2 separate regions of the Homo sapiens genome follow, and region 2 is linked to region 1. Evidence: fine-mapped expression QTL. A gene starts in region 1. The other region holds a variant in brackets. All regions are shown on one strand. Distances are from middle to middle. Region 1 holds the start of PORCN (porcupine O-acyltransferase). Region 2 overlaps EBP (EBP cholestenol delta-isomerase).

Region 1 (2,906 bases):
CCTGCCAAGCCCACTCTTTTGTTTAACAGAAAAGGACAATGGAGACGGGTGAGTGAACATGACTTGCCCAGCTCCATACAGGCCATTGTTAATCTGATTAAAATCTGTTTCAGTTGGCTGCCCAGGTCAGGGTGGCGTCCAGTTTGACCTGGGCTTCCTTCTCCCTTCCACGTCACAGCTAAGCATGTAGTGCAGTAAGCGCCCAGTAAGTGCTCTTTTGGAAAAATAGGCCCTTCATCAGCCTAGGTACAAAGGGGAATGCCTAGAAACTGCAGCAGTAGGGTAGGTAGAAGGCGGGTGCTACATAAATCTTTAGTGTTGGTGCAGATAGAGGTGCGGATGGGGCCAGTGTAAGCGCTTTCTTTTTTATTTTATTTATTTATTTATTTAGAGAAGGAGTTTCGCTCTTGTTTATTTATTTATTTATTTTGGAGAAGGAGTTTTGCTCTTGTCACCCAGGCTGGAGTGCAATGGCGTGATCTCGGCTCACTGCAACCTCCGTCTCCTGGGCTCAAGTGATTCTCCTGCCTCAGCCTCCGGAGTAGCTGGGATTACAGGCGCCCAGCTAAATTTTTTGTATTTTTAGTAGAGACAGGGTTTCGCCATATTGGCCAGCCTGGTCTCAAACTCATGACCTCAGGTGATCCATCCGCCTCGGCCTTCCAAAGTGCTGGGTTACAGGTGTGAGCCACCACGCCCAGTCTTTATTTATTTATTTTGAGACGGAGTTTCGCTCTTGTAGCCCACAATGACGCGATCTTGGCTCACTGCAACCTCTGCCTCCTGATTCTCCTGCTTTAACCTCCCGAGTAGCTGGGATTACAAGCGTGCGCCACCACGCCTGGCTAATTTTTGTATTTTTAGTAGAGACGGGGTTTCGCCATGTTGGCCAGGCTGGTCTCGAACTCCTGACCTCAAGCTATCCTCCTACCCTTGGCCTCCCGAAGTGCTGGGTTTATAGGCGTGAGCCACCGAGCCTGGCCCTTAAGAGCTTTATAAATGCCCCCCTTTTAAGTGCTCGGTACTAGCCTCCCTCTAGTTCACAGAGAACATTTACTAGTCGCTGGGGTCACCTTCGAAGCAAAGAGTCTGCTGGGGAATTAAGCATGCAAATCACTTCTCAACGACGACACGCCAAGTGCTCACAGCTCGTCCCCAGGGGAAGCACAGGCGCCTAATTTGTGTTCCTAGGTGACACAGTCATTACTTATAAATGTTCCTGGCCGGTCCCAGGAGGTGGGAGGGTTGGGAGTTACTTCGGTTCTCTCAAAGGTTGGGGAAGGAGAGATCTCGGTTTGTTTTCCCATCTGTGAAACGGGGACACCACGGTATTTAGAGGACGTGCGCGGGTGACTATTTGGGGGTGCAGCGGCTTCCCTCCTCCCTCCCCCATCTTTCCCTTCTCACTTCCAAGGCTTGGAAATTTGGAGATTCGGAAGTTTGTTCTTGGATGGCCAGAAATCCTCCGGAGGCAGACGGTCTGGGGCTGAAACCGCCACAGGCCGGAAAGGTGCGGGCGTGAACGTCCTGCGCGCCGACGTCCCCCCGCGCCGGTCTCCCCTCAATCCTCCTGCTCCCCTCCTCCGCGTCCCCGTCCCCGCCCCCCTCCTGCTCTCCCATTGGCCGAGCCGGCGGCCGGGCCGCCCCGGGATTTAAAGGGCCCGCTCGCCGCGCCGCTCTGGGAGCCGCTGCTGGTCCCGGCCTTGCGGCCTGCGGGGGAGGCTGCCCGGAGGAGGCAGCGGCGGCGGCAGCGCGTCCTCGGTCCCCAGGACCACGGCTTCTTTCCTGCCAGGTAGGTCGCCAGTAGTGCGCACGCGGCTCCCCAGCTCCCATCCCTGGGCCGGCCTCCCCAGGCGGATCTGTAGCGCGAGTGCTAGGACCCCCTCCCCATCACCTTTCCGACTCTCCCTCAGGCTATGTCTCCTACCACCACCTCCTTGCAGCCCCCGGACCTGGGCAGGACTTTGTTGGCGGCCTCTCGCCGGGTGGGGATGAGATGGGGGGCGCGGAGGATACAGGACACCCCCCCTCCCCGTGCCGCCGCATCCATACAAGGAGAGATGCACACGGCCCCCAAGTGTCACAGAATCCCCCTCTCTGCCCTCCACTCAGAGCGACTCTACCTTGGAAACCAGGGATTCCCCTTCCCGTCGCCCGCCCCATTTGATATATGGGCCTGAAATGTATGCCATCCCATCACCATCGGACTGGACTGTTCACAGCACTGGAGAGACAGAGGTCCTTCATTCACTCCAGGTCACAGGCTGTGCGTGTGCATGCCGAACACCCACATGCACACAGTTGGTGGCTCAGTCTGATGTACCTGACTTCTCACGCCTTCCCCCAGTCCTCCAGTACCGTGCCTCTACATGGGCTGGGCAGCCCCAAACTGAAATGTGAGTGCCAGAGTGCATCCTTTAAGCGAGGTCTGCCCCACGGACACCCGCTCCCTCTGTGTCCCTGCTTTGACAGATCTATCCATCTGGCCATCCATCCGTGGGGGTCTGCAATGGCCACCTTTAGCCGCCAGGAATTTTTCCAGCAGCTACTGCAAGGCTGTCTCCTGCCTACTGCCCAGCAGGGCCTTGACCAGATCTGGCTGCTCCTTGCCATCTGCCTCGCCTGCCGCCTCCTCTGGAGGCTCGGTAAGTGCCTGCCATACCGTGTGCCACCATGCCAGGCCATATCAGACCTCCCACATTCATCCATATCGAGCCACACCTTACCCTGTCACATCCTGCCAGGCCCTAGCATGTCCAAGCTGGACCCCAACATGTTCAGCCCCACCACATCCCACCAGGCCAAACCCCATTCCACCATACCACATCCTACTATGCCAGCCACCCCATGCCATGCCACACCGAGCCACATCCTGCCATGCCAAGCCATGCCCTTCAGTATTCCTG
Region 2 (2,906 bases), 21 kb after region 1:
TCCTGAGCTCAAACAGTCCTCCTGGCTTGGCCTCCCGAAGTACTGGGATTACAGGTGTGAGCCACTGTGCCCGGCCTCAGTCATCTTGTGTTATTAAATTGTTAGCTTTCTTTAGTTCTAGCGATATGAGTTATCTTTAGTCCCAGAATCCTAAGCTGTCTTGGATTTGAGGATTTTGAACTTCCTTAAATCTGAAGGTGTGAGCTCTCCTGAGTTCTGAAATTCTCAGCTCTCTGGTGTCTGGAATCTCACTTTTCTGATTTCTCAGATTTTCAGCTCTGTGATTTCAGAATACTTAGCTCTGAGACCTTGAATGATGACTTGGAAAGTGCTTTGGAATAGAGAATTGGCGAAAGTGTCCCCTTCCTCACTGGGGCTTCTCCTTCCCCTCCTGCCACCCACAGGCCAGATCTATGGGGATGTGCTCTACTTCCTGACAGAGCACCGCGACGGATTCCAGCACGGAGAGCTGGGCCACCCTCTCTACTTCTGGTTTTACTTTGTCTTCATGAATGCCCTGTGGCTGGTGCTGCCTGGAGTCCTTGTGCTTGATGCTGTGAAGCACCTCACTCATGCCCAGAGCACGCTGGATGCCAAGGCCACAAAAGCCAAGAGCAAGAAGAACTGAGGAGTGGTGGACCAGGCTCGAACACTGGCCGAGGAGGAGCTCTCTGCCTGCCAGAAGAGTCTAGTCCTGCTCCCACAGTTTGGAGGGACAAAGCTAATTGATCTGTCACACTCAGGCTCATGGGCAGGCACAAGAAGGGGAATAAAGGGGCTGTGTGAAGGCACTGCTGGGAGCCATTAGAACACAGATACAAGAGAAGCCAGGAGGTCTATGATGGTGACGATTTTTAAAATCAGGAAATAAAAGATCTTGACTCTAACACTGAGAGATCCTTAATTACTAACCCCAGAGATGCGCTATGACTGACCCCACAGATCCCACCATCATTCACTTATTCCAGACCCCCATCAGCATCTAAAGACCTCCCACCTCTGACCTCACAAACCCCTATCACTGACCCCCCGCCAGACCCCATAACTCACTACACAGACCCTATCACTGGCCCCACAGTCCCCTGGTCTTAACTCGAGCTGCCATAACAGAATGCCACAGACTAGGCTTAAACCACCGAAGTTCATTTTCTCACAGTTCTGGAGTCCAAGATCAAGGTGTCAGCAGGTTTGACTTCTCCTGAGGCCCCTGTCCGTAGCTTGCAGGTGGCCACCTTCTCAGTGTCCTC[A/C]CATGGTCTCTATGAACTAGCGTCCCTGTCCCTGGTGTCTCTCTGTGTGTCCAAATTTCCTTTTTTTTTTTTTTTTTTTGAGACAGGGCCTCGCTCTGTGTCAGGCTGGAGTGCAGTGGTATGATCATGGTTCACTGCAGCCTCTACCTCCCTGGCTCCAGCGATCCTCCTGCCTCAGCCTCCTAAGTAGCTGGGACTACAGGTGTGCACTACCACACATGGCTATATTTATTTTTTTTTATAGCAATGGACTCTCACTATGTTGCCCAGGCTGGTCTCAAACACCTGGGCTCAAGTGATCCTCCCACCTCAACCTTCCAAGTAACTGGGACAACAGGCACATGCCATTATACCTAATTTTTGTTTTGTTTTTTTTTTTTGAGACGGAGTTTCACTCTTGTTGCCCAGGCTGGAGTGCAATGGCACGATCTTGGCTCACCACAACCTCTGCCTCCTGGGTTAAAGCAATTCTCCTGCCTCAGCCTCCCGGGTAGGTGGGATCACAGGCATGTGCCACCATGCTCAGCTAATTTTGTATTTTTAGTAGAGACGGGGTTTCTCCATGTTGGTCAAGCTGGTCGCGAACTCCCGACCTCAGGTGATCTACCCGCCTCTGCCTCCCAAAGTGCCAGGATTACAGGTGTGAACCACCATGTCCGGCAATATTTTTTCAATTTTTTGTAGAGATGGGGTCTCACTATGTTGCCCAAGCTGATCTCAAACTCCTAGGCTCAAGTGGTCCTCCCACCTCAGCCTCCCAAGTAGCTGAGACTACAGGTGTGAACTACCATGCCTAGCCCAAATTTCCTTTTATGAGGACACCATTTGACCAGCCTGGGCAACATGGTGAAACCCCATCTCTACAAAAAAAATTTTGAAAATTAGCTGGGCATCATGAGGCCACGGTGGGAGGATCATCTGAGCTAGGGAGGTGTAGGCTGCAGTGAGCCATGATCACGGTGAGAGCCTGTCTTAAAAAAAAAAAGGAGGTGGGGGGTGGGCACCAGTCAGGCACAGTGGCTCATGCCTATAATCCCAGGCTGACACAAGTGGATCACCTGAGGTCAGGAGTTTGAGACCAGCCTGGCCAACATGGTAAAACTCCATCTCTACTAAAAATACAAAAATTAGCCATGCATGGTGGCACATGCCTGTAATCCCAGCTACTTGGGAGGCTGAGGCAGGAGAATCACTTGAACCTGGGAAGTTGAGGTGGCAGTGAGCCAACATCATGGCACTACTGCACTCCAGTCTGGGCAACAGAGTGAGACTCTGTCCCAAAAAAAAAAGTGGGGGGCACCATTTGTATTGGATTAGGCCCACTCTATGAGTCCCATTTTAACTTAACCACCCTTTTAAAGTCCCTATCTCCAAATATAGTCACATTCTGTGGTATTGGGGGTTAGGGCTTTAACATATGAATTTGGGGAGGACACAGTTCAGTCTATAACATTCTGCTCTCTCTGGCCTCCCAGAATTCATGTCCTTGCATGCAAAATACCTTCACCCCCATCCCAGCAGCCCAAAACTCTCTTTTGTTTTTTTGGAGACAGGGTCTTGCTCTGTGGCCCAGGCTGGAGTGCAACGGCACGATCTCAGGTCACTGCAACCACAGGGTTTCACTATGTTGGCCTGGCTGGTCTTGAACTCCTGGCCTCA

The links. PIP is the estimated chance that this variant, and not a neighbour inherited with it, causes the effect.
Region 2: its variant is the best candidate, but not a certain one, in a credible set for the expression of PORCN in whole blood (TOPMed, PIP 0.60).

Annotation. Positions count from the first base shown.
Region 1 is chrX:48,507,312-48,510,217 of GRCh38, forward strand. PORCN (porcupine O-acyltransferase) reads left to right here and starts at 1,681. Exons shown (of 15, transcript NM_203475.3): 1 at 1,681-1,792; 2 at 2,473-2,645. The coding sequence starts at 2,510. PORCN-DT (PORCN divergent transcript) reads right to left here and starts at 1,528. Exons shown (of 2, transcript NR_135596.1): 1 at 1,408-1,528. RefSeq lists a silencer at 1,508-1,907.
Region 2 is chrX:48,527,830-48,530,735 of GRCh38, forward strand. EBP (EBP cholestenol delta-isomerase) reads left to right here. Exons shown (of 5, transcript NM_006579.3): 5 at 405-887. The coding sequence ends at 628. Among named protein-coding and RNA genes, the nearest start is that of EBP, 7.5 kb to the left of the region's middle. The variant A/C (reference allele first, on the strand shown) is at 1,248.